3 linked regions of the Homo sapiens genome follow. The protein of the gene in region 3 purifies or fractionates together with the protein of the main gene of each other region. This does not show direct contact. Each region holds a gene or a part of one and is shown on either strand. Other genes may lie near its edges.

Region 1 (10,704 bases), on a different chromosome or scaffold from region 3:
AGTCTCACTCTGTCACCAGGGTGGAGTGCAATGGCGCGATCTCGGCTCACTGCAACCTCCACCTACCGGGTTCAAGCGATTCTCCTGCCTCAGCCTCCTGAGTAGCTGGGACTACAGGCATGGGCCACCACACCCAGCTAATTTTTGTATTTTTAGTAGAGACAGGGTTTCTCCATGTTGGCCAGGATGGTCTTGATCTCCTAAGCTTGTGATCTGCCTGCCTCGGCCTCCCAAAGTGTTGGGATTACAGGCGTGAGCCACTGCACCCGGCCTCTGCCAGGACTTTTTAAACTACAAATTCTCCGGTCTCTCCTTTGTGTGCATGGTTGTTTTTTTTTTTTTCTTTTGGAGACCGAGTCTTATTCCGTCACCCAGGCTGGAGTGCAGTGGTGCAATCTCGGCTCACTGCAACTTCCGCCTCCCAGGCTCAAGCAATTCTCCGGCCTCAGCCTCTGGAGTAGCTGGGATTACAGGCATGTGCCACCATGCCCGGCTAATTTTTGTATTTTGTAAAGACTGGGTTTCACCAGGTTGCCCAGGCTGGTATCGAACTCCTGACCTCAGGTGATCCGCCTGCCTTGGCCTCCCAAAGTGCTGGGATTACAGGTGTGAGCCACTGCGCCCGGCCCTTTCGTCCTATTTCCCCAGAAAAGCACATTCCACTTGCTGATCCCTGAGAAGGAGTGGGCAGCCCTACTTTCTGGGTCTATTTGGTAACAGGACTCCATCATCCTGACCAGTGTCCCTCCCGCTTTCCACTCCTTGCACCTCAGACTCCCTGGCAAGGTTCTGGGGCCCCCTCTTCTTCCAACCTTCACAGGGAAGGGTGAAAGTCCCCTCAGATGCTAAGCCCAGGCCAGATGGAAGCCTGACTCCCAGCCTTCCTCCTTGCCCAGGAATCTGTTGGGATGACGTACTTCATGTGGCCTAACACCTAAAGCAGATGCTTAGCTGGGGAAGAGCCTACAACAGGGACTGCAGGCAGGCTCCTGAGGCTCAGGACCCAGGATAGGGTCCCCAAGACGGGAGGTTGTTATAAGGCTCCTTCTCCCACAAGCTTCCAGGAATCTCCAGCCTACCTGGAAGAACTGGAGCATACTACATCCAGGGCCAGGATCTGGGCCACGCAGAGGGTGTGGCAAGTACCCTGGGGAAATAGTGTTTGCTAGGGTCCTCGTCTGTAGTTTTAAGTAAGGAGTAGGTAGGCTCTAGGATAGCACAGAATTTAAGAACAAAGGCTCTGGAGCCAGTGTTACCCATGTTCAGATCCTGGCTTTGCCTCTGCTGGCCACATAACCTTGAAGGGATTTACTTAACCTCTCTGTACCATAGTTTCCACATTGGCAAGCTGAATAAAATGATAGTATCTACCTCAAGGGACTGTTGCAGGGAATAAATGAGTGAAAGGTTTCAGAACACAGTGGGCTGAACTTTCAGTTTCTCTCTTGTGGCTGCAATTCCTGGCTCTATGTCTGCCTTGCTCCACCTGAAATCTACTCCACTCCTGAAGACCCAGGAGTTGAGATTGTTCTCTTCTAGATGTACCTATGGCCTAGACAGGTCAGGTGACTCCTCTGGGGCTTGCAAGTAATCAGCCAATCAGTGGGAGAGCACTGATTAGCAGGACATGGGGCAGGGCCTTCACAAACACCTGGGCAGGGGAGTGGCCTTGGCCAAGACACAGATTCCTGTTTTCCAGGGGATGGTGGAGGAGGCTGACTTCTGACAACTCAAGTCAGCAAACAATAGGCCTAGGATTGAGGTTTACTCCAAGTGCAATGGAGGTAAAGGGTGGATGAGGGAGTGCTCGTTGTCCCCTTAAGGTTGGGGCTGGGGGTGGCATGAGGGAGGGAAGACTTCGCACAGTGAGGGACTCCTCATTGGCCCTTGACAGTTAAAGGATGGAGGGCTTTCCAGCAATGAGGCATTTACAGAAGACAGCCAGGCATGAGTCTCCCAGTGCCCCCACCCAATCATCCCTCCATGCTACTATCACCCGAGTGGCCGAATGCCCTTCAAGGGCTCCCTTTGTCCTCACCAGAAAGCCTAACCCCAGAGCCTGGCATCCCAGGTCCCTGCTCACAGCAACTGTTGCACTTCCCATGCACTGAACCGGAGAGCTTGTAGTTCCCAGAATGAGCGATGCTGTGTCACCCCTAGGCCTTTCTGTGAGCAGGTTCTTCTGCCGGGATGCCCTGTGCTCAGCTGTCTCAGCTGTGCCTTGTGTGCAGGGCACAGCTCACAAACGACCCTCCTCTGACTGCCCTCCCAGTGCTGCCCTCACCAGCCCTTCTGCAGAGTTGGCCAATCCCAGTCGCTGCCTCTAGAGCACAAATCCCACTGTTTACTCCCACTGTGTTTTTGCTGACCTCTTTACTTGTCTTTCTTTCCAGACTCAACTTCTTGAGCCAGGAAAAGTGGCTTGCTTGAAGTGCATCCCTGCCCCCTGGAACACAGCAGGTGCTCAATAAACATCTGATAAGGAATACATGAAGGGTGAATGAACAACAGCATGGAAGAGTTCTCTGAGAAAAGCGGTGGGAATGTACTAGGGGAGGAGGGGAAGGGTCGTGAGTGCTGATGAGGCTGGCAAGGGGTCAGGACACAAGCAGGACGCAGGGTCTGAACCAGGCTGAGGAGTGGGAGGCTTCCTCTTGTGCCTCTCTGGAAGTCACTGGTGGGTTTGAGCCTGGGGTGACATGAGGGACCTGTGGTTTGGAGCTGAATCAGACTCTGCCTGAGGTTGTGAGAGTGCCTTGGATCTCAGTGCCCCAGTCAGATGGTCTCTGTCCTCATGGAGCACCTTCTGCCCAGGCAGTTAGTCATCCAAGCCCTCTGTGACCTGCCTCTGGCTCAAGAGCAGCGACTCTAGCCTATTCACATGGTGACCCTGGGGTCTGTCGCACAGCTGGGGCTCAATGCTTAGTAGCTGGAGGAACGAATGAATGCTCTAGGGCCTCCATCAACCCACTGGCCTCCAATGTGCAGACACTCTTTCTTCTCGGCCTTGCCTGCAGCTGGGCTCCTGCAGGCTGATAGTGCTACAGCTGCTATTTTGGCATCTAGAAGGTTTAGGGGATCATCTAGTTCATGGCCCAGTGAGGTTCCAGCAGGGAAGTAACCTTCATGAGTCACACAGTGGCAGAGCCAGGGCCAGAAGCCTAGACCTCCTGACTCTGAGTCCAGTGATCTTCATGCTTGTCCTGGCTCCCCTCCGTAGCCCTTGTCCAGATACTCAATTCCTCCCTGTGCCCATCCCAGCCATGCTGTCTGACTGGGATCCACCTGTGTCTCCAGAGGGAAGGCTGCTCTGGTTCAGCTGCACTGGGGGAATGCGCTGAGAGACGGCAGAGCACCCCTGGGCAGACATCCTGTGCTCAGCACTGAGGGTGGGGAGGGAGCCCCTGGATCCCAGGGGATAGCGGGGCTGTCACACCAGCCCTGACTGGCTTCCAGACTCAGATAACACTGGGAAGAATGAAACAGGCTGTTTTGCCACGGCCTCAGCCGCTGTTCCTGGGGGTTTATGTTGCTCACGGCTGAGCCTAATCTCAACTGATGCACAGGCTCACACGGCTTCCCCATTCGCGCACACCGTCCTCTTTCACAGACAAGCTGGGTCTCAGTCTCCTTCCCGCAAGGTCTCCCAGTGGCTCCTGTTCCACATTCCCATTCCCTCCACAGGGGTGCATCTGGGCCTGTCTCCTCCCTCAGTCTCCCTGTTGCCGGCAGAGGCGGCTCCCCACCGTCTCATCACACCCCTCTCCGCAGTCCCCACGCCCACCCCCCCTGTGAATTCCCCATCTCATGCCCAGCGTCAGGGCACACCCCGCATCACCCTCCTCACTTGCTCGATTCTCCTCACACGCCTCCTCCCGATGCCACTTCTCATAACGTGTGTACACACACACACACACGTGTACATGCGTGCATGTGCAGGCACACACTCTTACCGCATGTCATCACCTTGCTCCAGCCTGCCCGGTCTCCTCTGGCACCCTGCCTTCCCATCACGGTCCCTAGCTGGCCCCACTCTCCAGGCGCTCTTCCTCAGCCCCTCCCCAGAAAGCCCTGGGGTTTGGGGGGAGGCCCGCCTGCAGGAGAATGGAAAGCAAAGGGGGCCAGGGCAGCAGACTGCCCCTTCCCTCCACACCCTGCTTCCAGCCACCACTGTCCAGTGCTGGTCATGGCCCAGGCTGCAGGTCATCGCTCTAGGGCCACACAAGCCACTTGGCCCCCTCCCATTCTTCCAACCCTCTTGCTCCTGGACAGCTGGCGCTCTCTCCTGGGAGTGTCCTCTGCCATCTTGGTCTCCTTCCTGTCACACCAGAGAGCATGATTCTGGGGCCCAGGCTGAGCCAATCTAAATATTTATTCCTCTGCTCCTGGCTGGGGCTGCTTTATGGCTAGAGAAGTGGCTGGCTTCGCTGGGCTGGGGAGGGGAGAGGGGGTTTAGCCTGCAGAGCCAGCCAGGAAGCAGTGCCTTCCTAGCCCCACGGCAAAGCTGGAAGCACCCTGGCTGCTCTGCCCAGGCTTCTCGAGCAGGAACGGGGTGGATGGATTCCACCCAGAGCCAGGCCACGCACATCCCGAGGCCAGTGCCCAGGGACCTAGGCCGCCCCATGATGAGATGCCAGCATCCCCTCAGGGCTAGGCCTGGACAGAGGCTGCTTGTCTTGGGGCATTAGCACAACCACTCACCCAGAGCAGTGCTCCTGCCCCCAGCCCCTCCCCAGAGCAGTGCTCCTGCCCCCAGCCCCTCCCCAGAGCAGTGCTCTGTCAGCCGAATCCCAAAGGTCACCACTGTCCTGACTGCTGCAGGAACAATGTGAGGCTTTATGTGGATCAACTGCGCCCCACTGTGCTGCTGACTCAGTGCTCCTGAGACGGGTCTCCATGCTTCCCTCTCACCCGCACTCCCAGCCCTGATGCCTCTCCCTGCCCTTTATCTGAATCCCTAGTGGCAGCCACTTCAACACTTGCCAACTTCAAGGATGTTAGCTCCTCATGATGCTTTGGTCCCTACAGCAGAAAAGCAGCAGCTGCAGCAACATGCTTAACGGTGGGGTAGACGGACATCCAAGCGGGCACTGGCACCTCACTCCTCACATGCCCACGCGGGCCTCTGTTCTGCGAAGGGCCTCTTAGTCACTGCGCACACTGAACCCCAAGCATCACACTGTTGTCTCTGGTGTACCGGCAAGGAGCCTGGGGCTCAGAGAGGTTAAGTGACTTGCCAAGTCACACAGTGGGTAAGTGGCAGGAAAAAACGTACATAGTGATTGCTCACTAGTGTCTGTGAGATATTTTCTTTTCTTTTTTTTTGAGATGGAGTCTCACTCTGTTGCCCAGGCTGGAGTGCAACGGCGTGATCTCGGCTCACTGCAACCTCTGCCTCCCCGGTTCAAGTGATTCTCCCGCCTCAGCCTCCAGAGTAGCTGAAATTATAGGCACACACCACCATGCCTGGCTAATTTTTGTATTTTCAGTAGGGACAGGGTTTCACCATGTTGATCAGGCTGGTCTCGAACTCCTGGCCTCAAGTAATCCGCCTGCCTCGGCCTCCCAAAATGCTGGGATTATAGGCATGAGCCACCACACCTGGCCTTGGTGAGATATTTTCCAAACTCATCCCCCTCACCCAGCTCCCCAAGAGGCCATGCAGGGGAGAGAGGAGTTGCAGGCATGGCCAAGTAGCCAACACTCCATCCACTGGAGGTAAGAGCGTGGGGGAAGTGGTCCAGCCCAAGTCTGTACAAACGAGGGTCTCTGTGGATTTGTTCCTCTGCACCAAGGTTTTTTCCAGCCTCCTTCTCCCCTCCACCTCCCTCCCCAGGGTTCTTTAGCCTACTGGAAGGAGCCCACTCATGGTACCATGGCAGACAGGCAGTCAGGATATACTGGAAGGAACCCTGGGTCCTAATCTGGGATCATCAGCTGCTTCATCTTGTCAGCCTCACTTGAGAGCTCCAGGCGATCAGATAAGAGCATGTGTGACATGAGGGACTGCTCAATGGGTGATCTCCAGACCCTATGCAATCCTCACTTCAAGGCTGGGCCCTCCGCCAGCGGAACAGGAGTCTGTCCTAAGTTTATCTCCACCACCTCTCTGTGCCTTGGGAAGCCTGGGAGGGAACTAACTCACTCTCCCCACCAGCTTCCCAGCAGGATCCTCCATTATCCCAGGTGGCAGTCTTCATGGCCTACCGGGATCTTTTGCTAGGACTCCACCTGGACATAGCATTCAGGGGTGGGAGATGCTGGCCAAGCTCCCGGGAGGGGGTCTGAACCCTCAGGCAGGGCTGGCCATCCTGATCTGAGGAGGAATTCCTCACACGCAGAGGAGGGACAGATATTAGACCCAGGAGCCCCATGTCAGTGAGCCTGGTCATTCCATCTGGCGACTTCTTGTAAATACCTGTGAGGAAATGCTCTGAGCTCCAGAAAAGTCTGGGCCTCTCCCGAAAGCACCTCCACTGCCTTTTCCTCCCCAAGGAGACTTTCCATCCATCAGATGCTTCCACGCCAAATCTTAAGGGTGCTAACACAGACAGGGTAGGGGCAGACTGGGCCCTGAAAGCTTCTCGGTCCCACATCTATGTGCTGTGATATCTCCTTGGGATACACGTTCTTAGGTGGCAACGTGGACATTGCACATTCCACATCTTTACTGACTGCACCTCAAGGCTTCCCATGTTGCTCCCCCACCCACAGACCAGGCCCCCCGGCACAGGGGCCCTAGCATTCTTTGGACTATCCCTTCCTCTGGCTCCCACTCACTCATCAGTGCCCAGGACAGGGCTCAAGCTTCCATCCTCCATGGGTCCTTGTCCCTTCGAAGCGGCCCTGAGCTGACCCACACAGCTGTACAGTTCCCCTTATCTTGCTTATTCCCTCCAGGGCTCCAGCTGTGGGCCTTCAGGATCCCCTCCTTCCACACTTTTGGAGTCTGTGTCTCCCTATCCTCCCTGATGCTGGGAGGGGAAAGGGACCCCCACCGCCCACCACCGTGATGCCATCACACATGACCTTCTTCATATCTGTCAGTATCACCCTCCCCATCCGGTCAGCCCCAAGGCAGGCAGCCTGGAGCGTGACTCATCCTCTTCCCAGCTTTTGGCCACTCGGACTAGGGGACAGAGGTGAAAGAGAAACTGGCAAGAATACCAGCTTCCAGGAGGTAGACCAGAAGGGCTGTCAAATAGCCAGTTTAGGGAGAGGGGATGGTGACACACCTATGATTAGATATGCCAGTGATTATGTACATCCAGGGCTAATTACACCCATAGGATGTGGAGTATAAAGGAGAGTGTTGCCCACCAAGGGCGCGCTGTGAATTAGTTTGTGTACTGAGGGCACACAGCATTAGGCCCGAAGTATATGTGCTGCTCAAAACACATTAGGATTAGTGTGGGTAAGATGACAGGTTTCAAATATGTGACTGAGTTTGGGCCCTACCCTCATTTAACCTGAGCTGGCTCCTTCTCCAGGTCCCCTCCCCTCCCCTAGAGCAACTGCGCCAGTGGTTCCCAAACTTTGCTGCACACTGGAATCACCTGGGTTCTTTTGTCACCCAGACTGGAGTGCAGTGGCGCGATCCAGGCTCACTGCAACCTCCGCTTCCTGGATTCAAGCGATTCTCCTGCCTCAGCCTCCTGAGTGGCTGGGACTACAGGTGCATGCCACCATGCCCAGCTAATTTTTTTTTATTTTTTATTTTTTAGTAGAGACGGGGTTTCGCCATATTGGCCAGGCTGGTCTCGAACTGCTGACCTTGTGATCCGCCTGCCTCAGCCTCCCAAAGTGCTGGGATTACATCACCTGGGTTCTTTAAAAGAAAAAACAAAACCAAAACGACTGCTGCCTGACTCCCACCCTGAGATATTCTGATTTCACTGGTAGGGTGTGCAGCCCAGGCAGTGGGAATTTTCAAAGCTCCCCAGGTGATTGTGAGGTGCGGCAAAGCTGGGAGCCACTGAGCTGCGGCATTCTTTCAGAGCTGTGGCTCGGTCAGCCTGATGGCCTTCACTCAGCCTCTGGGCAGGGCTTGCAGTAATGCAGGATGGCCATCTGATAGCTCCAAGCTACTGAGTCTGCAAGCCTCACCTGGGCTCCAGGCTATGTGTCCTCCAGTGGGTTGACGACTGTGACTGCTTTGCTGCGTCAAGGTCCAGAGCAGTAGTGTGGGAGAGAGTTAGACTGTCAGAACTCTGACGCGGGTAGAGGCAAACAGGTGGGAAGGGCTGGAGAGAGGGGGCTGGATAGGGTTGGGAATCAGACAGAAGCCTTGGTCCCATCCCACACAGGGAGGCTCACTGCTGCCCTGGGTGGACTGTCAGGACAAGGATGGCTGCTCCTGCTCTGAGGGGCTGGCCAGCAATTTTGGCACTTCAAGGAGAAGGTTAAGATGAAGAGCTCAAGGATCCTCCAGGCTCAGTACTGACTTTTCTGCATGACCTTGGGTCCGTTGTTCAATGTCTTTGAGTCCAAGTTTAGCAGAGAGGATCCTTGCTGAAATGCTGTGTGAGCCACAATTGCAAAGCTAACAGCTCCTATGTCTTGAGCCCTTAACACAGTATCTAATACAGAGTAAGGATGTCATAGGCACTACTAACTGTGGGATATGTGCTATTATTATCCCCATTTTATAGATGAAGAAATGAAGGTCTGGAGAGATCAAGTAGCTTGCCCAGGGTGAACCTGCTAATAAGTGGTAAACCAAGTCTGTCTCATTCAGTCTGGACTGTTCTCCCCAACGTGATCAAATGGCAAACAAGGCTCTTCCCAAGTAGATGAGGACTTTTCCCAAATCACTGCAAATGAGTTTGGTACAAGAAACACAAAAAGCGTGACTTCCCAGGCTGGAGTGCAGTAGTACAATTGCAGCTCAGTGCAGCCTCAGCTCCTGGGCTCAAGTGGTTTTCCTGCCTCAGCCTCCTTGAATAGCTGGGACTACAAGGCACACACCAGCGTGCTCCGCTAATTTTTAAATTTTTTGTAGAGACAGGGGTCTCGTTTGGCCTGAAGATTTCATATTCCTGGTTTCAAGCGATAAGCCTGCCTCAGCCTCCCCAAATCCTGGGATTACAGATGTGAGCCACCACACCGAGCCGAAGTCTTTTTCTTATAGGAAAAATCATTCCTTCTAGACCAAACTTTCTTATGGAAATCTGACAAACACTATGAGGCATGGGGCCTTGAGAACTGAGAGGTGACCCACCCTAGAAGGATCTGGACATAGAAGCTGCTGTGGCCAGTGCAGGCAGTGAGTGAGTGGCCTGGGTGAGGGTAAGGCTATTCTCCCCCACACTGCACTCTCCAACTCCACCCCGTCCTAGGCCAATGGAGAAACCTGGAGTTAAAGGGACTTGGGAAAGCTGGTTTCCTTTCGGTGTCTTCCACTCCCAATTCCCTCCCTTGCTGATGAAATTGGAGATGCCAGAGGTGGGTATGAAATGGTAGCTTCTGGGTCAGAGGCTAACCTGAAAATCAGACTTTAGAAACCTGGGTGGAGGTCTGAACCACTGTAGAGATTCAAATGAGGTGCTCACAATCTCCAGATGCATTTTCTAACTGGGCAGTCAGATGACCAGCATACCCTCACTCCAATCCCCAGCACCCCACCCCCGCCATCAGCCACTACTGCCAGCACATCACAGCTACCTGGGTACTTCTTAGCCTCTCCCTTCAGATCACAGCAATAAAAACCTTCCAGATGTAGCTAAAGGCTATAAAAGCTCAGCCCTACCCATTGCCTTTCACTGTCCTGGCCACAGCCAGGGAAGTCTCTCTGCAGGATTCTAGTGCAGCCACAAGATGACATCCAGTGGGCAGGGGGTTGGGAGCCTCACAGCCTGGCCTAAGGCTAACTTTCAAGGACAAAGGGCTTGGACAGAAGATTAGATCCCCGATTCCTGATGGATCCAGCCACTAACATAGATTTTTCAGGAACAGAACACACTTGATAAAATTCTCCTAGGGTTTAGGTGGGGAGGCAGGGTGCCTAGCTTAGGCCTGCGGAGTAAGGATGGGCTACAAAGTCTTCCCATTTGTGAACGCTCACTACCCCACCCCCCATCTGCCTGCTTATGTCCAATGTCAGTGCCAACTCCGTGGCCCTGGGGCAATCAGCGGTCAAGCCTCACCCCCCAACCCCACCCACCTCTAGCGGTCAAGCCTAACCCCTCACCCCTGCTAACTATGGCAATCTGGCTGGGTCCCTAACTGACTTCCCAAACTCCGCCACCTCTCCTCTAAAGCGCCCTGTCTCTACGAGGGAGGAAAGACAGGCAGCTTCAGCAAGGGTCCCCGGGGCCCCGGGCTCCCCCAGCTATCTAATCGGCTTCACCCCTGCACTCCCCCAGGGACAGAGCCTCACAGGGCCTCTCTTTAGCTGGGGGAAGGAGACAGAACGCTCCTTTTGAATACCTAAGACTTACCCACCCTCTTTTCCTCCAGCTTTCCTGCTGCTGGGTCACTGTTAGTCACTCACCATCCAGGCCCATTTCCTGATAATCCCCCAGCCCCCTGGGTGCAAGGCCCTTCTTATTCCCTCCAACACAGACACACACACACCAAGAGCGGGCTGGTCTCTAACTCCCAAACCGTAATCTGGGACACACACCCACACACCCACACCCACCCACCCACCCACCCACCGGGCTGGTCTCTAACTCCCTAACCCTAATCTGGGCCAAAATAGGG
Region 2 (10,704 bases), on a different chromosome or scaffold from region 3:
ATAGAAAAGAAGGGCCGGGCATGGTGGCTCAGCCTGTAATCCTAGCACTTTGGGTGGCGAAGGCAGGTAGATCACCTGAGGTCAGGAGTCCAGGACCAGCCTGGCCAACATGGCGAAACCCCGTCTCTACTAAAAATACAAAAATTAGGGCATGGTGGTGCATGCCTGTAATCCCAGCTACTCGGGAGGCTGAGGCAGGAGAATCACTTGAACCCAGGAGGTGGAGGTTGCAGTGAGCCGAGATTGCGCCACTGCACTCCAGCCTGGGCGACAAGTAAGACTGGCTCAAAAAAAAAAAAAAAAAAAAAAAAAAAAAAAAAGAAAATAAGGAACACATCTGTAACTCCTTTATATAATCCCTGCCTGCTCTACTTCAACATCCTTAACTCCTAATTTAGAAAACTTCTCTGCTTACACTGCCAAACCTCTACAACCACAGAGGACACCAAAGGAGAATACTGGTGGAACAAGAACAGTAGGGTACAGCTATTCACCCCAATAGTTGTTAGTTATCTAACCATTCACAAAAACCCGTAACACAAAAACTACACTGAACACAAAAATAAATGTTTAATCCCTTTAGCTCTTTTCTAAGTATCAAAAGATAATCACAAATCTATGAAGAATTGCCAGGCACAGTGGCTCACGCCTGTAATCCCAGCACATTGGGAGGCAGAGGCAGGCGGACCAACTGAGGTCAGAGGTTCGAGACCAGCCTGGATAACATGGTGAAACTCTGTCTCTACTAAAAAAAATACAAAAATTAGCTGGGCATGGTAGTGGGCGCCTGTAATCTCAGCTACTCAGGAGGCTGAGGCAGGAGAATCATTTGAACCCAGGAGGCGGAGGCTGCAGCTGAGCTGATACTGCGGTACTGAACTCCAGCCTGGCCGACAGAACCAGACTCCATCTCAAAAAAACAAACAAACAAACAAACAAACAAAAAGCCTGGAGAATAAGACAGGAGTGCTGCTGGAGAGACCCTTTACTTTGCTGAGTAGGGAGGATGACAGAGTCTCAAAGGAACAATAAAAGTCATAACCAAATAATAAATTATAATCAAATATACCTGTGACTGTTCCAAGTCAACTCATCAACCTAGTACTCTAAAAAGTGACTCTCCTAATGAAAATCCTCTTACTGTAGAAAAAGTTGATATCATGACACTGGCACTGAGTACCAGCAAAAGAGATTAAAAAAACATTAAAATTCAACAGAAAAGGCCAGGCGCGGTGGCTCACGCCTGTAATCCCAGCACTTTGGGAGGCCGAGGTGGGTGGATCACGAGGTCAGGAGATCGAGACCATCCTGGCTAACACGGTGAAACCCTGTCTCTACTAAAAATACAAAAAATTAGCCGGGAGCGGTGGCAGGTGCCTGTAGTCCCAGCTACTTGGGAGGCTGAGGCAGGAGAATGGCATGAACCCGGGAGGCGGAGCTTGCAGTGAGCCGAGATTGCACCACTGCGCTCCAGCCTGGGCAACAGAGTGAGACTCTGTCTCAAAAAAAAAAAAAAAATTCAACAGAAGATAATGTGCAAACCTAATTAGTCATGATATCAAGATGCTTCATCCACTTATTCTTCTGCTATTTCTTCTAGCTGAGGGTAATACAACTGACCCACTCTTCTGATCTCAGTTTTTTTTTTTCTAGTAGCAGTGATTAAGTTACAGGGATCCATCTATACTTCTTTGCCAGTACCCCCGTGGCCACTGGCAAAGTTTGATGGACTGCTGGCTGGCACTGTGGCCATAGAAGAGATGAGGCTAGGCTGGGTGTGGTGCTTCACACCTATAATCCCAGCACATTGTGAGGCCGAGGCAAGAGGATTGCTTGAGCCCAAGAGTTCAAGACCAGCCTGGATGACACAATGAGACCCTATCTCTACAAAAATTTCAAAAATTATTCAGGCGTGGTAGCACATGCCTGTACTCCCAGCTACTTGGGAGGCTGCGGCAGGAGGATCACGTAAGCCCAAAGGTTGAGGCTGCAGTAAGCCTTGTTTATGTCACTGGACTCCAGTCTGGGTGACAGAGTGAGACCCGGCCTCAAGACAAAAAAAAAAAAAGATATGAGGCTAATTGACTGTGTATATGAATTGGATGAACTCATAATTCTACTTTGCTACAACTCAGAGAGCCAACAACTAAAAACAATTCTACAGGCAGTTACCATGGTTAACAAACACCAAGAGGGCCATCAGGGATGTAGCAGAGAGGGAATGGTGGAAGGTGCCTAACAAGGCAATTCATTCATCTCTTGTTCATTTCATTGGGCAGTGTTTTCACTTCCTGGTACCCAGCTCTCAAGACATTCCATCAGGCGTGAGAGCTGGTTTTCTGTTTCCAACATCCTGTAGCTACAGATCCATTTCCAAGCTTCACACCCACCTTGCCTGTCTTTCCTCTGCCAACACCCACCTGGCCACTGGTCCTTACCAACCCAAGAACAGCCTATCTTTTCCTGGCTCCTCACTTCCTTCTCATGTAATCTAGGTAATATGTTCCTTTAGGAAACTGTCTGCCTTATCCCAGATCTTTAACATAAATCAAGACATGGCTAACATATAAAAATAACTGGCTGGGCGCAGTGGCTCATGCCTGTAATCCCAGCACTTGGGAGGCTGAGGTGGGCAGATCACCTGAGGTCAGGAGTTCAAGACCAGCCTGACCAACATGGAGAAACACCATCTCTACTACAAAAAAAAAAAAAATACAAAATTAGCCGGGCGTGGTGGCGCATGCCTGTAATCCCAGCTACTTGGGAGGCTGAAGCAGGAGAAACACTTGAACCCGGGAGGCAGAGGTTGCGGTGAGCCGAGATCGCGCCACTGCACTCCAGCCTGGGCAACAATAGTGAAACTCGGTCTCAAAAAAAAAAAAATTACCAAATTTTAAGATGCTCTGATCTGTATACTGCTTACGGGTTCTTTTCTCAATTTTAATGAATAACTTCAAAGACTGAAAAAATACCTTATAATTTTAAGGAAATGAAAAACATCATGGTCCTTAGCACAACACTAAAATTAATTAAAAAATTAATCTTCTATAAAAAAAGACTTTTATTAGGAACAGCATTCTACTTTTAACTTTTATGAATATGCAGTTTAGGGAGCGCTTCCTTTGAGTCCATATGCATGAAAGTAGCCCCACAGCTATATTTATAAAGTGATTTTTTTTTTTTTTTTAGACAGAATTTCGCTCTTGTTGCTCAGGCTGGAGTGCAATGGGTGATCTCAGCTCACTGCAACCTCCGCCTCCTGGGTTCAAGAGATTCTCCTGCCTCAGCCTCCCGAGTAGCTGGGATTACAGGCGCCTGCCATCACGCCCAGATATTTTTTTGTATTTTTAGTACAGATGGGGTTTCACTATGTTGGCCAGGCTGGTCTCAAAATCCTGACCTTAAGTGATCCACCCATCTTGGTCTCCCATGGGATTACAGGCATAAGCCACAGCGCCCAGCTCATAAAGTGATTTAAAAAACATTATTTCTAGGATAATTCAATGACAGCTTAGCCTTCACTAAAAACTTTTGGAGCTTCTAGTTTAAAAACAAAAAAAACATGGCCAGGCGCGGTGGCTCACACCTGTAATCCCAGCACTTTGGGAGGCAGAAGGGGGAATCACTTGAGGTCAGGAGTTCGAGACGAGCCTGGCCAATATGGTGAAATCCCATCTCTACTAAAAATACAAAAATTAGCCAGGCACGGTGGCTCATGCCTGTATCCTAGCACTTTGGGAGGCTGAGGTGGGCAGATCACCTGAGGTCAGGAGTTCGAGACCAGCCTGACCAACATGGACAAACCCTGTCTCTATAAAAACACAAAATGAGCCAGACATGGTGGCGCATGCCTGTAATCCCAGCTACTCGGGAGGCTGAGGCAGGAGAATCGCTTGAACCCAGGAAGTGGAGGTTGTGGTGAGCTGAGATCGCGCCATTGCACTCCAGCCTGGGCAACAGGAGCGAAACTCCATCTCAAAAAGCAAACAAACAAAAATTAGCCAGGCATGGTGGTACATGCCTGTAATGCAGCTACTTGGGAAGCTGAGGCAGGAGAATTTATTGAACCTGGGAGACAGAGGCCACAGTGAGCCGAGATCATGCCACTGCACTCCAGCCTGGATGACAGAGTGAGACTCTGTCTCAAAAAAAAACCCAAATACATTGTGCACATGTACCCTAAAACTTAAAGTATAAAAAAAAAAAAACCCAAAAACCAAAAGACAAAAAACCTAGGCAAATATATATGATAGATATCATAAAGTTGATGTTTTGAAAATAAGTTATGATGCATGGATTTCTTTTAAAAAGGTTGCAAAGCTTAATATGAAGGGGTCTGTTTAGTTATTTCACATCATAAGTTTCATAAGCTGCTACTGTGAAAAAGTTACCATCTTACAAGACTGCTGCTAAGGCTGGGCACGGTGGCTCATGCCTGTAATCCTAGCACTTTGGGAGGCCGAGGCGGGTGGATGACCTGAGGTCGGGAGTTCAAGACCAGCCTGACTAACATGGAGAAACCCTCTATCTACTAAAAATACAAAATTAGCTGGGTGAGGTGGCGCATGCCTGTAATCCTAGCTACTCGAGAGGCTGAGGCAGGAGAATCACTTGAACCTGGGAGGCGTAGGTTGCGGTGAGTTGAGATCGCCTCATTGCACCCCAGCCTGGGCAACAAGAGCGAGGAAAGAAAAAAAAAAAAAGATTGCTGCTAAAACATCTTAAAATCTCAGACTAAAAGGAATCTCTTCCAAATTGAGTTCCCAATTTGAAACAAGAACATGTAGTTATGTTTTACTACATTTTAACTTAAACATGAATATAAAAATATGGGAAAATGAGCTTCAAAATGAACTTTAAATGAAATTATGAAATCAAAGACCCCAGAAATTAAAATGTGATTCATTTTCCCATAAATTTACATTCTTATATATTCTCTATTGAAAGTCAAGGTAAATGTAATTTACGATTTATTCAAACTGAAAAAGTTGCTGGGCATGGCAGCTCACACCTATAATCCCAGTACTCGAGAGCTGAGGTGGGAGAATCACTTGAGCCCAGGAGTTTGAGACCAGCCTAGGCAATACTGGAAGATCCAGTCTCTACAAAAAAGAAAAAAAAAAAAAGTCGGGTGTGGGGCGCACACCTGTGGTCCGACCTGCTATGGAGGCTGAAGTGGGAGGATTCTTTGAGCCTGCGAGGTCAATGCTGCAGCGGGCTATGCTGGTGCGCAGCATGGGCGACAGAGACCCTGTCTCAAAAACAAAAAACGAACTGAAAAAGTCTTAAGAATGTCATAATCTGTTAACAGATTACAGTTAAAGTACAATAAGTTGTAAGAAGACCTGATGGTAAGGATCTTATCAGTGGGAGTCCACTTACATTTCTATAGGGAGGCAAAAGGCACTGCATTAAAATCACATGCTAATTACCAATCTTGGCTTTGCAGTCCCCAAATCCCAAAACCAAATTATTTCTGTCTATATGTGTGCTTCAGTGGCAGATAACATTTTTTGAGAAGAGAAAATTAAGGCTAGGAGCAATGGCTCACACCTGTAATCCCAACACTCTGGGAGGCTGAGATGGGAGGATCACTTGAGCCTGGGAGATGGAGGTTGCAGTAAGCCAAGATCCCACCAATGTACTCTACTCTAGCCTGGGCAACAGAGAGTAAAAAAAAATAATTATAAAAAAGGAGAGAGAGAGAGAAAATTAGAATCTACTAAGAAAAGAGTGGTACAACTTTCAAAAAGTTGGAGCTGCCATTCTACAATGTATACATATTTCAAAACATCATGTTATACATGATAAATATATACAATTTTTGCCAATTAAAAAAATAAAAACAAAAAAAGTTGGGACTAAGTAGATTAATGGCCTACGTAGTCTTGTATTTTACATTTTAAAAATAAATAGTATCAGATACTTCTGAAACTAGCATAACAATATGACCACCTGCTCATTTATCCACTATCATTTTTACATGTGAAAATCTTCAAAAAGCTAGAGAAATTATAAATCAGATAAAGATAAGGACTCTACTTGAAATCTCAATTTGTTTTTTTTTGTTTTTTTTTTTTTAAAGAAATAGGGTCTCTCAGCCTCCCATCTAGCTGGGACTACATGTGCACATCACTGCAACCGGCTTGAAATCTCAAACAATTTTACCCAAAATCAAAAGTAGCCCAGAAAGAGTTAAGAAGGTGCTGGGCGTGGTGGCTCATACCGGTAATCCCAGCACTTTAGGAGGCTGAGGTGGGTGGATCACTTGCGGTCAGGAGTTCGAGACCAGCCTGGCCAACATGGTGAAACCTGTCTCCACTAAAAATAGAAAAATTAGCCAGTAGCAGTGGCAGGTGCCTATAATCCGAGCTACTCGGGAGGCTGAGGCAGGAGAATCACTCGAACACAGGAGGTGGAGGATGTAGTGAGACAAGATCACGCCACTGCATTCCAGCCTGGGCGACAGAGCGAGACTCTGTCTTTAAAAAAAAAAAAAAAAAAAGGAGTTAAGAAGGCACTCAAGAAAAAAGTGCTAGAATCACAGTAGAGTACCTCTCTGAAATTTGACAAAATTAGTAAAAGTTGGCAATTACTTTGTCATCAGTGTTTATCCCTTCCTTATGGCATGTTTCACAATGCACTGTGGAAGCTACGTAAAAAATGCATCTTCCTTGCCAGACTTAAAGTAAGGAGCTGCATCTTATTCACTTAGCCCCACATTCCTTGGAACCTAGCAGACTGCCTTACACATAGTAGTGACTGAAAGGTTGAATGATTTAAGGCGACACATGTACCTAGATCCAGGTAATCAATTAGGCTCTAATCTATGCAAGAACATTCATGATTTCATTTTAGCTAATAAGCAGCGAGCAATTTGTTAAGTTGCTTTTTTTTATTTGGAAAGCTTTAAAAGTAGATTTTAAGCTCTGAATAACATACTTACATTTTAAATGTATTTGAAAGTATGATAGTGAGACATTTTAAAAAATACATCAAGATAAAAAATGATTGGGTTCACTGTGAACTAGACAGTGTTGGCAGGGTGAACACAAAGTGGGTGCTAAAGTCTATAAAATGTTAACATGACAAGAACACCACAAAGTGAGTTAAAAGTGGCCCTACAATTCTCACTGGAAAAGTATTAACGGGCAAGCAGGAAAAATGTAGGGTACTGCCATCTCCACTAAGGGTCTGTAGGGTGGGGAGCCTGTTGTCCACTCCTGAGGAACAATTATTTCCATTCCTCATGGTGCTGCTGAAAAGTGAAGTACGGAGGAGCTGGTTCAGTCTGTGAACTCATTTCCCATCACCCAAAGAAAATGACGGAATCCCAAGCTGACTGGGCCCCTTCTAGACTCTTGATAGTTCAAGCTCTATCAACTCTCTAAAGCGCCAGTCTAGGGCAGAGGTAAAGTAAGGCAAACTACAGCCCTCAGGCCAAATCCAACCACCACTTTTTTTTTTGGAGATGGATTCTCACTCTGTCGCCCAGGCTGGAGTGCAGTGGCACGACCTCAGCTCACTGCAACCTCCACCTCCTGGGTTCAAGCAATTCTCTGCCTCAGCGTGAGCCACCACGGCCGGTCCACCACCAGCTTTTATATAGCCCGAAAGTTAAGAATGGTTATTTGTATTTTTGAATGGTGGGGGTGTCAAATGACAAATCATATTTCATGACACATGAAAATTATATGAAATTCGGCCAGGTGCGGTGGCTTACGCCTGTAATCCCACCACTTTGGGAGGCCGAGGCCGGCGGATCACGAGGTCAGGAGTTTGAGACCACCCTGGCCAACATGGTGAAACCCCATCTCTACTAAACGAAATACAAAAATTAGCCGGGCGCAGTGGTGGGCGCCTGCAATCCCAGCTACGCGGGAGGCTGAGGCAGGAGAATCACTTGAACCCGGGAGGTGCAGGTTGCAGTGAGCCAAGATCACGCCACTGCACCCTAGCCTGGGCAACAGAGCAAGACTGTGTCTCAAAAAAAAAAAAAAAAAAAAAAAAAAAAAAAATATATATATATATATATATATATATATATATATGAAATTAAAATGTCAGTGTCCACAAATAAAGTTTTAATTGGAACAGAGCCATGATCTTTCAATTACAGGTTGTCTATAGCTGCTTTCGTACTATTACAGCTCCGCCAAGCCTGCAATGTTTGCCACCTAGCCCTTTACAGAAGAAGCATGCTGAACCCGGGACTAGAGCATCTCTCTATGCTCCTGGTTGCATTGCCTTTCTCAGAGGCACTGCTTCACAAGGTTGAGCCTTCAAGCTTGACAGGTGTCCATCTCAGGACTGTGTCATCCAAAGTTACATTAATAAAATCATAGGATTTAGTGTAATTCATTAGGGTGGGTACAAAGACAAAGTAACATATTACCTGCACACATAAGGCCCTGAAAAGGAAGCACCAAGCAAGTACAACATGATAGGCTTGTTCAAACCTTTTACCAGACTATTATATCCAGTTCAGGATCACACTACTGAAAGGAAATGAGAACTACAGAGAATTTGGAGGTGGACAGATGACTGAGAGTGCAAAAATTACACCACTAAAGAAACACGGAGGCTGGGCGTGGTGGCTCACGCCTGTAATCCCAGCACTTTGGGAGGCCAAGGCGGGTGGATCACCTGAGGTCAGGAGTTCAAGACCAGCCTGACCAACATGATGAAACCCGATCTCTACTAAAAATACAAAAATTGGATGGGTGTGGTGGCAGGCGCCTGTAATCCCAGCTACTTGGGAGGCTGAGGCAGGAGAACTGCTTGAATCTGGGAGGTGGAAGTTGCAGTGAGCCGAGATCACGCCACTGCACTCCAACCTGGTGACAGAGTGAGACTCCAGCTAAAAAAAAAAAAAAAAAAAAAAGAAAGAAATAAAGAAAAAGAAAGAAAGAAAGAAATGCTGAAAGAAATGGGATTCTTTGGCCCAAAAAAGGCAAAGGTAAGAAAAGAACTAATAGCAAGGGTGCCAAACACTGTATTTACTGATAGGTCAAAGTCTTACTGATGACAATAATGACAGTCTGAACTAATATTCCACAAAATATGTATCTAATGAGTTAAATGTGATTCGTGAGACTGCTATTCCTGTCTTAGGCCATAAACTAGACCCTTGAAAGAGAATCACTTGTCGAATATTGTACTATAAGTCTTCAACAGATGTATTTAGGTATGTTCCTTTTTCATTAGGTATGTTCTATTTACTGACATTAACATAAGTTACTAGGAAAGGTGTGCTACTAGTGTGCTGAGGTTCAGCAATATTCAAGTAACTAAAAGGTAATATAAGTTTCATAACCACACACCTTTGCACAGCACCAAATGGGGGGAAATGGGCTTAAATTACAGAATATATGTTACATTCAAGAATGTTCCAAATATGAGATTTTAATTACTCTAACAGAGCACTGGGGGTGAAGGAATTTTCTTCCCAGGACACTTCAATTAGAATGCTCGTCTGGAACTATCTGTATGCTTTCTTAGACCAAGGAGAATGGGTCTGAAACACTCTTCCATGGCTGTGATTCTCTAACTAACCCTCCCAGTTTTCAAGAGTAAGAGAGCTTGCAGCCATTGCTCACTTTTGTTTTGTCTTGAAGGTGGTCAATGTACACAGGACTACAGTTTAAGATAAACTTTAATATCCCAAATTGAAAACTGATTATAACTTTAATTACGAGTTCTTAAAATTACAGAGATAAGGATACATTTCGATTAAGCAGACGAAGTGGGGAAAAGAGGCATAGCTTCCTACTTCTGTGTCCCTTTCAATGAGGCTAGGTACCTCATTATTTCAAAATGCCCAACACTTGAACACTGTAAGTACTCAACAAATGCTTTGCGAAGAAAATATAGTATATTTCATATTAGTTTTGTAACTTTTAAAATACAGAATCGTTGAACACAGAATGTTGAGTCAATTTCAACGTCGCAATTAGTAATGCGAATTTTGAAACTTGTTCTAAATACAATTTTAATCAATCTGAGTTTTTCAGCCTTGAAATTCTAAGGTCCGTATTTCCCAAAGAATATCCTTCCCATAGTGCTAAGCACACACTAAACTGACTCACTAAACTTTCTCCACTCCTACATCACCTATACAGGATTTTAAAATCCGGAGTACACAAACTTTCAAGCCACTTCTACAATCTTGTATTAACCTTAGCAGGACAAACTTTTCGCCAAGACTCTTAACACTTTTTATCCAAAAACCTGTAGTAGTGAAACAAAGAAAACACAACCCCCTCCTCCTTTTCTAAACCATATGGCAATAAATTAAAGTTAACTTATTTCTTACCAGCTCAAAGCCTATACATCGACCCTAAACATTTGTCTCTTTGTGCCCTGGGACTGGGCTTAGAGCTGTCTGCTTATTTGCAACTGTACTCCAATCGTGTTTTAAAATGGCAAAACAAGGTCCAAAACGACCCCCGACCATGAACAGACCTCACCATCGTCATTTTCCAAAACCTGGTCTGGTAGGCAGCACATGCCGGCGAGGGCACCAGGGCCGCGGGGAGCGAGCCCTGCTCCGCCTGGGTGACTGAGCAGGGAGTTTGCTTGCTGCGGCGGGGTCGGATCCACCCCGGGAACTTGGTTACCCGAGCCCAGGGACGCGCCGAGGCCTAGCCGCGAGGCCGGGGCGGGCTCCAGGCGGCGAGGGCTTCCCGTCCCTTGGCCGCAGAG
Region 3 (10,704 bases):
TGGGAAGGGTGTAAAGAACATTCAAGATCGGCATGGGCATTTAAACCACATAAATATTAAATTTCCCCACATGCTCTGGGCTGAGCTTTCGTGAAAACATTTAGAAGGAAGCTGAGAGGCAGAAGAATGGAGAGTAGGTTGCTATTTACAGTTTATAGGACAGATTTCTTAGAGTTTAGCCCTTACTGTTCTTGCTTATAGATTATAGTTTAAAACAAGCAAGGTTAAAACTGCATGACTACTTGTGACTTTTTTTTTCTTTCTTTTTTTTTTTTGGTGGAACCATGTAAAGCTCTCTGGAAAATACATTAAAATGCATTCATTTTCAAGCAAATGTTCATCACCCAAAGTCACAGAATTACGGATTATGAGCAATGACAATTTGACTATATCTCATTTTGCTCCCAGCTCCCCTTAGACCAATAGCCATATTTTGCTTTTGCTTTGCCCTAATTCCAGAAAAATTTTCTCTTATTCTCCATTTCTTTTTTCAAATTACTGGCGTGTTTTCATATGATGCAGCTGACAGAAACCAAGTCCAAAATTACTTTATGTTCCTGTGAGACTTTTATACAAATAAATTAGTAAACTGCAGTTGACTAGTATTTAGTTCTGAAGCAGCTTTCATTCAAGTTTAACATCCCCTTTCAATTTCAGTGTTTCAGGATGCTCCAACCACTCTGGGCTTTTCTTTGAGATTAAAAAGCAGAGTGATGCATTGATGGACTTACTATATGATTATGGTACAGAGGGTTCTGGAATCTGACCACTTCTATCACTCTCAGCTGTGTGACCTTGAGGAAATTACTCGATATCTTGGTGTGCCCATTTTGTAATTGTAAAAAAAGAAATAACAATAGTACATTACAGGGTTGTTGTGAGAATTAAATGAGTTAAAACATATACAAGATTTACAACATTGTCTGGTCATACTAAGTACTCAATAACGGTTGCTGCTATTGTTGCTACTTTTATTATTACTGTTATTATTTTACTACTACTATCATTACCTTCTGTTCCAGCAAGTGGATTTTCCTCCTGCAAAACACATTTACATTTGTTGCTATCCCATAGCATGTCAATAGGACAGAGTTTCTTGGAATGGGAACAGCTAGGAAAAGAAAACAATGAACCAGATTTAAAAGCTTTCAAGGATAATCAAAACTTTGGAACATTAAATAAATTCCTGAGTAGATAATAGTTAAGATTTTTTAAATTTATTTTTTGCTTTTTATACTCAGTTTGGAGAAATAAGGTTTTGAGATCTATTGCACAGCATGGTAACTATAGTCAATAATAATAATGTATTTTATATTTCCAAATTGCTAAGAGAGTAAATTTCAAATGTTCTCACCACAAAATGATAAGGATGTGAGAAGAGTTAAGATTTTAAAGGAGCGGGCCAGGTGCGGTGGCTCACGCCTGTAATCCCAGCACTTTGGGAGTCCGAGGCGGGCAGATCACCTGAGGTCGGGAGTTCGAGACCAGCCTGACTAATATGGAGAAACCCCATCTCTACTGAAAAATACAAAATTAGCCGGGCGTGGCGGCACATGCCTGTAATCCCAGCTACTTGGAAGGCTGAGGCAGGAGAATCACTTGAACCTGGGAGGCGGAGGTTGCAGTGAGCCGAGATCTCGCCATTGCACTCCAGCCGGGGCAACAAGAGCGAAACTCCGTCTCAAAAAAAAAAAAGATTTTAAAGGAGCTTAATTTGTATTTATGAACTGCATCTTACTAGATAGTGATTCTGTAATTATAAATATTCTACGTGGAAATGTTTAGAAACTAAACTGTAATTTTGGAAATTGTAATCTTCTTAAGAAGGTATATGTTAAAACTATGCAAATTATAGCTGTCAACAGTTTATTTACGAAAATTAAATATGTTCTAACATACCTCCTAAGATTATTTTCTTTTCTTTTTTTTTTGACGGAGTCTCCCTCTGTTGCCCAGGCTGGAGTGCAGTGGCGCGATCTCGGCTCACTGCAAGCTCCACCTCCCAGGTTCATGCCATTCTCCTGCCTCAGCCTCCCAAGTAACTGGGACTACAGGCACCCACCACCACACCCGGCTAATTTTTTTTTATATTTTTAGTAGAGACGGAGTTGCACCGTGTTAGCCAGGATGGTCTCAATCTCCTGACCTCGTGATCTGCCCGCCTCAGCCTCCCATACTGCTGGGATTACAGGTGTGAGCCACCGTGCCCGGCCCCTAAGATTATTTTCTTTAAAATAAAGATAAAAGCATTGGCCAGAACAGCAGGAACATCTTGAGAATAAATGTTGCTTTTCTACAAGTTTTCTTTTCTGCTGGAGAGAGGCGGGAGGTGTCTTCTTGGTTCAATGTTAACTAATCACCAGCTTACTCTTTTACTTGCCACTCACACAATATATTTATTGCTTTACTTTTGCAAAGTCTAAGTATCTAACTAATGATCTTTTCATTCAGTTACCCTTTACTTGTTTCTTTATATTAAATCCTTTTTTTTCTTCAAATAAGTGATCCTTACCTTTGGTTTTGTCGTTTGTCTTATAAATAATCACAAAATTAATCTCAAGAGAATTTCAAAGCCAAATTAATTTTAAGTCATTTTAATTTAAAATAAGGGTTTTCCATTTGGTAATCTTAAGGGGGAAAGATTAGAAAGTTGCAAAACTCACGTGCTGCTAGTTTTGTCACTCCCCAATGACCCCAGGAATCTTCTTTGTTTTCTCTCATTTCAGGATGTAAATATACAAACAGCCTGAAATAAGTTTTATTTAATGCTTGTTCTGGAACATGTGCTAAATTTGAGGTTACAGCGGTTTTACACCTGCAGTAGACTATGCATATTAAGAACAAACGTGTCTACAAGTAGACATGACAAGCTCATACCACTGAGCGTTTTGGTCCTACCACAATATATATCTAACATCTAATAAAAATATGTATTTGCCAGTTATTACCAGTAGGTTCAGGTTAGAAGCTAAAATATGAATAATTTGAAGATAAATTGATAACTCTACATTAATGAAAAATCCTCTACACACAGTTTTGGCAAGGCAAAAATAAGCATAATCCAGTATAAAAAAAAAAACAAAAGTGCTTACCGATCTTCTTCAGGGATCTGGATGGATCTTCTGATAATTGAGTATGGATGGCGGGGGGCTGTTGGCAAGCACTTACAACCTGTATGATTGGCAACTTTAACAGGCACTAATTCAGGTACTGATGTCAAAGGCACTGATATCTCAAAGAGCTACAGCAGAGAAAGATAACCACAATATATTTTTTTAATTTTATATATCATTTTTAAAGTTGTTCTAGTCTGAATTTTTGCCTTTGTCATTTACGGCAATGACTTTAGCCAAGTTGTCCATTAAGAATGGAACTAAACAGGCTCATCTAACTTTATGAAGTGTTTAAGTTTGGTCAAATCTTTTAACTTTTTGATCATTGATACTCTTGTAAAATGGTACTGTTAATCCCTGCTCCTGCTTTAAATTTGAGTGTAAATCGTAAGGGTTAAATGAGATTAAAGCTATGCAGTTTCTTTAGGATTTTATTAGAATAGATTATTATTCAAACTATTTATTCATCCCTTCTCACACCATCTCTATTGAAGAAATATAGTTTCCTGTCTCTTGACTTTTTATTTGGCCATGTCACTTTCTTTGGCTAGTGGGATGTTAGCAGACATGACAGAAGTACAAATTTGAACTGTGCATGTTTTATGGGGCTTGTTTTCTCAAACTTATGCTATAGCCATGAAAAGAACATAATCCGGCAGGCTTGCTGGTCCAAGCGATGGGAAACATAGAAGTTGACTTGGACTCACACTGCAGCTTAGAGTCAAGCCCAGCTGAATCCACCCTAAACTAACTGAACCTCAGATACATAAGTGAGAGTAAATCATTGTTGTTTGGAACCACTGAGTTTTAGTGTGTTTGTTACGTAGCACTGTGTATTAATAGCTGACTGATACAAGATCATCATGCCCAAACAAATAATTATAGCTAACATGTATATCATTCTTTCTACGCTTTCCGTAGGCCAGGCCCTGTTGTAAGTGCTTTCATGTTAACTCATTTACCCCTTATAACAACATTATGGGGTGGGTTTTTATTATCCCCATCTTACAGGTGAAGAAACAGATGTACAGAGAGATTACACAACTTTCTTGAGTGGTTCTATGATGTGTGGATGAGTTTGAAGTTGATTTTAATGCATTGTCTATTCAATCACCATTCCATGTAGTCCTTACTACATAGAGTATTCATTTGTTCACTTTGTTTCTAAGAGGTGGTTTGCCAAATAGTCCATAACTTTGGGGCGAGAGATAGTTTTTAAAAAACTACTATTAAAATGTTCAAAAATGCATATTTGGAAGAAAAACTGCTGTACACTTACACTTAAGTACATTGTATGAAATTAATCATTTGTTGAGTACAGCAGTCAAAATAAAGTACTCAACTATCTATTAAGTGGAAGCAATCCATTAAGGTTGTGTTTATTCTGACATCTCAATATGTAATGGAACTTCCATGAGTCTCAGTGAGAGTGTTTTTGTAGTGTTTACTTTGCATAAACTTCATCTTCTTGCACAATTTTTTGGCTATGCTCTAGGGAATCACATGATCATGAACTAAACCCTCTTACGTTATGCAAGCTTTTTTTCTACTCAGAATTGATGCTTAGCCCTACTTGGGTCATTTTTTTTTCCTAATTGTCAAATAGTAGAGGTTAAAATACACACAAGCTCCAAGATTCTCTAAAAGAATTTAGAAAAAGAAACTCTGCAGTTTAAAGGATATTTTAGAGGGTGGAGGAACAAAATTAAGGATAAGTAAATCTATTAACAAAACAAATCAGCATTAAGAAAATTACCTAACATGGATATATTCAGTGCATGTAATTTTCTTGTACTACCTCTTTTTGCAGTTAAAAGGAGAATAAACCATATAGGCAAACTGACAATTAAATAAGTATATCAACATTCAAAGAATTTGCAACAGATACCAAAAATAATGTAGTTTGATGTACAGTTTTTTAGTATTGCTTTCCCAAGTTTGTTACTACTGCTCTCATATGCGACATTTATTAAAAACATGGTAACCAGAGAAAGGAAAACTTACCTACTAAGCAAAGGGAAATTTATAAGATGAAGAGGGCTGAATTATTTCTTTCATGGGGACTGCAGAATTATTTCCAAATGTCTTTTGTGCTAGATATTCTCTCTTTGCCCCTCCAGAGACACCATCCTCTCCCCTTCCTTCCCCATCAGGCTCTGTGCCCCAGGACGCTGCCCTCCATGGGCTACATCTATAAACCCTCTTGCCTCTCCCAGCCCCTGCCCCTACTCCCTGCCAGGCTAAGAGTTGACAGTGGCCAGTCCAGAAACCCTCTTCTCCGCTTTCCCTCTGGGTTCCCATAACTGCTCCCTCCCCTTGTCTCCTCAGTCGAAGGGTGGGGAAATCTCACCCTTTTTGCTAGCTTCAGGTGCTTCACTGTCCCATCCCTCTTTCCCCAATTCTGCCCACAACCTTCATTAAATTTTTCTCAATCACTCCATTTGAGCAACACAGAACCTGCCATCAGCTATCTTCATTCCTTTTAACATCCTGTCCTAGTAACTTCCATATGGTTTTCTGAGTCTTGACATCATAGCATCAGAGAGACAATAACTGATAAGAGTTCAGGCTCTGGCCTCCCACAGACCTGGGTTTGAATCCCAGCTCTGCTATTTATCAGCCGTGTAAACTTGGATAAGTAAGTTACCTCTCTGAGCCTCAGTTTCCTCATCTATAAAGGAGCATAAAATACCCTCTTGATTTGTTTCAAAGATTAAATGCGATTATGCACATAAAGCATTTAGTACAGTGTTTAGCAACAAGGTTGTTGTAGCTATCAACACTATTATCATCAGGGCTTTAGAGACGGCAGGCTTGCCGATGTCCTTATACCTGTTTGGAAATGTACGAGGTGCTGGTGTTCATACAGATAAGGCTCTCTTCATTGCAACAGCCACCACATCGGAACACGTTCACACAAGGGGGCTTGAAGAATGTGTTGGTACTCTTCCCCAGCTCACTGGCCACCTCCACGCACGTTTCTCTAGGGCTGCACTGAGTTCTTTGCCATTCTTCATCTATAACTGCAGAGAGAAAGAAAGCTCACTGGGGCTAGCAGGTGGAATGGTCCTGGTGTGCCAACATGTGCCAGGGTTATGCTGAACACAGTCATTTTCACATTTCTACTGCTTGTTTCTTTTACTAGATGGATATTTTTTGTCAGTCCTTTAACCAAAGATTGTTTGCAGAGAAGTTACAACCAATCTCTGTGCTCTTTCCCATTTATACCATACCTTGTAGAATATAAGTATTTTATTTCCCTTTGAGGTAGAACACCATGTCCTGTACATAATTACACTGAATACATCTGGAGAAGCTGGTTAATAGGGAAGTAAATAGAAGCGTGTAAAGAAATAACATGTAAATATTATTTATCAAGCAATTTATAGGATACAGCTGGATAGCATTTCTTCTGCTTTAAAGCCAGGTGTAGGTAGGTTTTAGCATCATCAAGAAATATGTTTCTGTTGGTTGCTTAAGTAACTACAGTAGGATTTAAACTTGGCAAACGCATAAATGGAAATTGAAGTGAAACTAATCCTTACTCAAATCAGAGTTTTCTCATTTGCAAGTGCCCGATACTGATATTTATGTAAATGATGAAATAAGCCTGTTCTTATTACTGGAATGAGCAATCCTTTGACCATAGTTAATTTGAAGGTAACAAAAAAAGAAGCCTATGGGAATAAAAAAATTATATACTTTCTTGTAAAACAGTACTTGCTTTTCTCTCATAATTTATTTTTTAAATTAGATTTTGACCCTTTGATACTTAATGCTGCATAGCCTTTCTACAGGTGTTTTGGGGGAAAGATTCAATTTTATGATAAAGACAACACAAAGACTTCCTTGTAGCTTGCCATGGAACTGTAGAGTTTATTTATTATGTGTGGGGTTGTGGTGCTGGTGAAAATCTCTTGTGGTAGGCAGCTTTGAAACTAACCCCCAGTGGTCCCCATCTCCTGATAGTCATGCCCTTGTGTAAATGCCTTCCCCTCGTGTGTGAGCTGAACCTAGTAACTTGCTTCTTATGAAGAGAATACAGCAAAAGTGATGGGATACCACTTCCATGATGAAGTTAAAAAAGATTGCAGTCTTGTTTCTACTTATTGCAAGCTCCCTTCTTTCTTACTCTGTCTCACTTTCTCACACACACTCTCTCTCTCTCTCTCCTCCTTCTCCACTTGCAGGCTTTTTTTTTTTTTTTTTTTTTTAGCTTATTTTACTTTAAGTTCTGGGATACATGTGCAGAACGTGCAGGTTTGTTACACAGGTATGCATGTGCCACGGTGGTTTGCTGCACCCGTCAACCCGTCATCTAGGTTTCAAGCCCCGCATGCATTAGGTATTTGTCCTAATGCTCTCCCTCCCTTTGCCCCCCACCCACCAACAGGCCCTGGTTTGTGATGTTCCCCTCCTTGTGTATATGTGTTCTCATTGTTCAACTCCCACTTATGAGTGAGAACATGCGGTGTTTGGTTTTCAGTTCTTGTGTTAGTTTGCCGCCATGTTAGAAAGGTCCACACGACAAGGAACTTGAGGCAGCCTCTGGCCAATAGCCAGCGAGGAACTAAGACCCTCAGTCCAACAGCCTGTGAGGAATTGAGTCCTGCAAACAACAGCTGACTGAACTTGAAAGCACACTCTGCTTCAGCTGTGCCCTAAGATGCCTGCAGCCCAAGCCAACATCTTAACTGCAGCCTCCAGAGACATCTGAAGCAGAAAAACTGATCTAGGCCATGTCAGCATTTCTGGCCCACAGAAACTGAGATAAATATTGTTTTAAGTAGCTAAGTTTTGTGGTAATGTGTTATGCAACAATAGGCAAACTCTCCTTTATTTTTACTGCATTTTCAAGAACTCTCCTGAGATTATCCTGAATTCCCATATAGGGGAATAGAAGGAATAGAGAAAACGTCTGCTTGAAGTATACTGATACAATATTACCATTTGAGATGTGACCCTAGTCCCTAAATTATTCCCTTATAACATCTTCTCCATTCCTTTCTCCTTTTTCATCCCTTAATACCAATTTTTTTCATATGTTGCTTCTTCAATCACTGAAAACATAATATGAGTTGTCTGGAGCACTGCATTATACTACACAGTCTACCTAAACTTTGTTTTTTTTTATTTTTTTCCTCATAATAAAACATTCTATCCTGAGAAACTTTTTTTTTTTTTTTTGAGACGGGGTCTCACTCTGTTGCCAGGCTGGAGTGCAGCGGCGCGATCTCGGCTCACTGCAACCTCCACCTCCTGGGTTCAAGCGATTCTCCTGCCTCAGCCTCCCAAGTAGCTGGGATTACAGGTATGCGCCACCATGCCCAGCTAATTTTTGTATTTTTAGTAGAGACGGAGTTTCACCATGTTGGCCAGGCTGGTCTTGATCTCTTAACCTTGTGATCCGCCCACCTCAGCCTCCCAAAGTGCTGGGATTAAAGGCGTGAGCCACTGTGCCCAGCCCCCAAGAAACCTTTTTAAAAATTTCTGATTATTAATATTTATATAAAAAGCCTGAAGGCTGAACACATGAGAGATAAATTACTCAATTAAGTATTATTATGGTTATTATTTAATTCACTATAATTAATCATGAATCCTTGAAAAAACAAGAAACCAACCTATGAAAATATTCCCAATTTAAAATTCTACTTAAAGGTTGCTTTCCATTTGCTTTTTCTCTTTTTATAAAACTAAGTTTTGAAATTGGAGTGGTAAGCTTTTAATCAAAATCATATGCAATTATGACCAACATCACTGATTAAAGGCTTCATAACTCTACTATTCTTTACTGCTTCCCAGCAGGACTGCTCTGCCTCAGGAAATTACCTTGAAATCCACAAGGGAGAGTTGATAACAAATTCTAATTGGTGTAACATGCTGATTTCATTATTGACTGCTTCTAACTTAGTAAATAACTTCAGATGATCCCCTAGAAATTACGAGATAAATTCATAGGGTTTGCAAATTCCGTGATATTTTAATGGTTTTCTCCTTAGAAAATGTCAATGTCATTGACTTTTTTTAGATCACCTAGTCTTGGTTTTATGGTAACGTTCATGTTCATGAAATAGCTCCAGGTTCACCTCAGGCCTTCAGTCAGGTAATCTGGTTAAGGCCTTTGACCTCTAGATGAGGTGCCAACCCTTTGTTCTCATGAAGGCTATATTAATTCACCACATAGAAACATCTAGAGCTTCAAATTTCTGTCTGAAGTGAGCTCGAGGCTATGGTTCCTACCACATCAACTCACTTAGACACACAGTCATACACATGAACACTAAGAATCCTCTTCACACTCATGCCCAAGGTGCTACCAAAGAATATGTCCCCATCTATGCACAGCTCTCCCCACAGCCAACAACAGAGGTCTGTGCAACCCCAACATCTTTTTACAAATGGGAAAAAACAAATACAATTTTAGGTAGAAAGAAAAAAATAGTTTTGGCCTAGTGGTTAATTTGAATTATGCTATATATATAGTCAGTTACCAGGTAATCATGTTAATCAAATCTAGAATGCTAGATCAGCAATGCTGTAGCAGCTTCTTGTGTTGTTTTGACATGACATCAAAAAATTAAGTGCCTAATCAGAAACCACAGAACTTTACTTGACAAGCATTTTATTCATTATGACAGTACCTACTCACACTGGTTTTCTTTCTTTCTTTCTTTGTTTTTTTGTTTTGTTTTGTTTTGTTTTTTTGTTTTTTAAGATGGAGTTTCACTCTTGTTGCCCAGGTTGGAGTGCAATGGTGCAATCTTGGCTCACTGCAACCTCCGCCTCCTGGGTTCAAGTGATTCTCCTGCCTCAGCCTCCCAAGTAGTTGGGATTACAGGCATGCACCGCCATGCCTGGCTAATTTTGTATTTTTAGTAGAGATGGGTTTTCACCATGTTGGTCAGGCTGGTCTCGAACTCCTGACCTCAGGTGATCCACCTGCCTCAACCTCCCAAAGTGCTGGGATTACAGGTGTCATCCACCACACCTGGCCTGATTTTCTTTTAAAGAATCTTCATACGTTACTAGGGAACGATCATTATCCTTATTTCAAATTATGTTATTTTCTAGTCTGGAGTTTTGATCATTTTGTCTTGAGAATTTTCTCCCTTCATTATTCTCCTAGCAATACCAGTACCCAATATTACAACTCAGTGTCTAACTTTTACTTTTCACTTTTACTAAAAAATCACACAACTTTGCAGAAATAAAAAAAAAAGCTATACCTAATCTATTGGTTCGGGGAGGGGGTGGTTTTTTTGAGACAGGATCTTGCTCTGTTGCCCAGGCTGGAGTGCAGTAGCATGATCATGGCTCACTGCAGCCTCGACCTCCTGGGCTCAGCCGATCCTCCCACCTCAGCCTCCCAAGTAGCTGGGAATACAGGCACGTACCACAATGTTCAGCTATTTTTTTCTATTTTTTTGTAGAGATGGGGTCTCGTCATGTTGCCCAGGCTGGTTTCAAACTCCTGGGCTCAAGCGATCTGCCGTTCTTGGCCTCCCAAAGTGCTGGGATTACAGGCATGAGCCACCATGCCTGGCCATCTTTGGTTTTTGTCTATGTATGTATGGCAGTAGAATACTCC

The links.
Region 1: the proteins of VEGFD (region 3) and OAF purify together in Homo sapiens (affinity purification with mass spectrometry; 2 studies listed by BioGRID and IntAct, with this or other methods). This does not show direct contact.
Region 2: the proteins of VEGFD (region 3) and KCMF1 purify together in Homo sapiens (affinity purification with mass spectrometry; 3 studies listed by BioGRID and IntAct, with this or other methods). This does not show direct contact.

What each region holds. Positions count from the first base shown.
Region 1 is NC_000011.10:120,212,200-120,222,903, reverse strand, and holds part of OAF (out at first protein homolog precursor), read right to left. Parts: intron 1-10,704.
Region 2 is NC_000002.12:84,972,006-84,982,709, reverse strand, and holds part of KCMF1 (E3 ubiquitin-protein ligase KCMF1), read right to left. Parts: exon of another isoform or gene 10,510-10,704; coding exon of another isoform or gene 10,470-10,509; intron 1-10,469. UniProt on the Homo sapiens protein: E3 ubiquitin-protein ligase which accepts ubiquitin from an E2 ubiquitin-conjugating enzyme and then transfers it to targeted substrates, promoting their degradation by the proteasome.
Region 3 is NC_000023.11:15,352,058-15,362,761, forward strand, and holds part of VEGFD (vascular endothelial growth factor D preproprotein), read right to left. Parts: intron 6,137-10,704; coding exon 5,946-6,136; intron 3,242-5,945; coding exon 3,093-3,241; intron 1,112-3,092; coding exon 1,011-1,111; intron 1-1,010. UniProt on the Homo sapiens protein: Growth factor active in angiogenesis, lymphangiogenesis and endothelial cell growth, stimulating their proliferation and migration and also has effects on the permeability of blood vessels.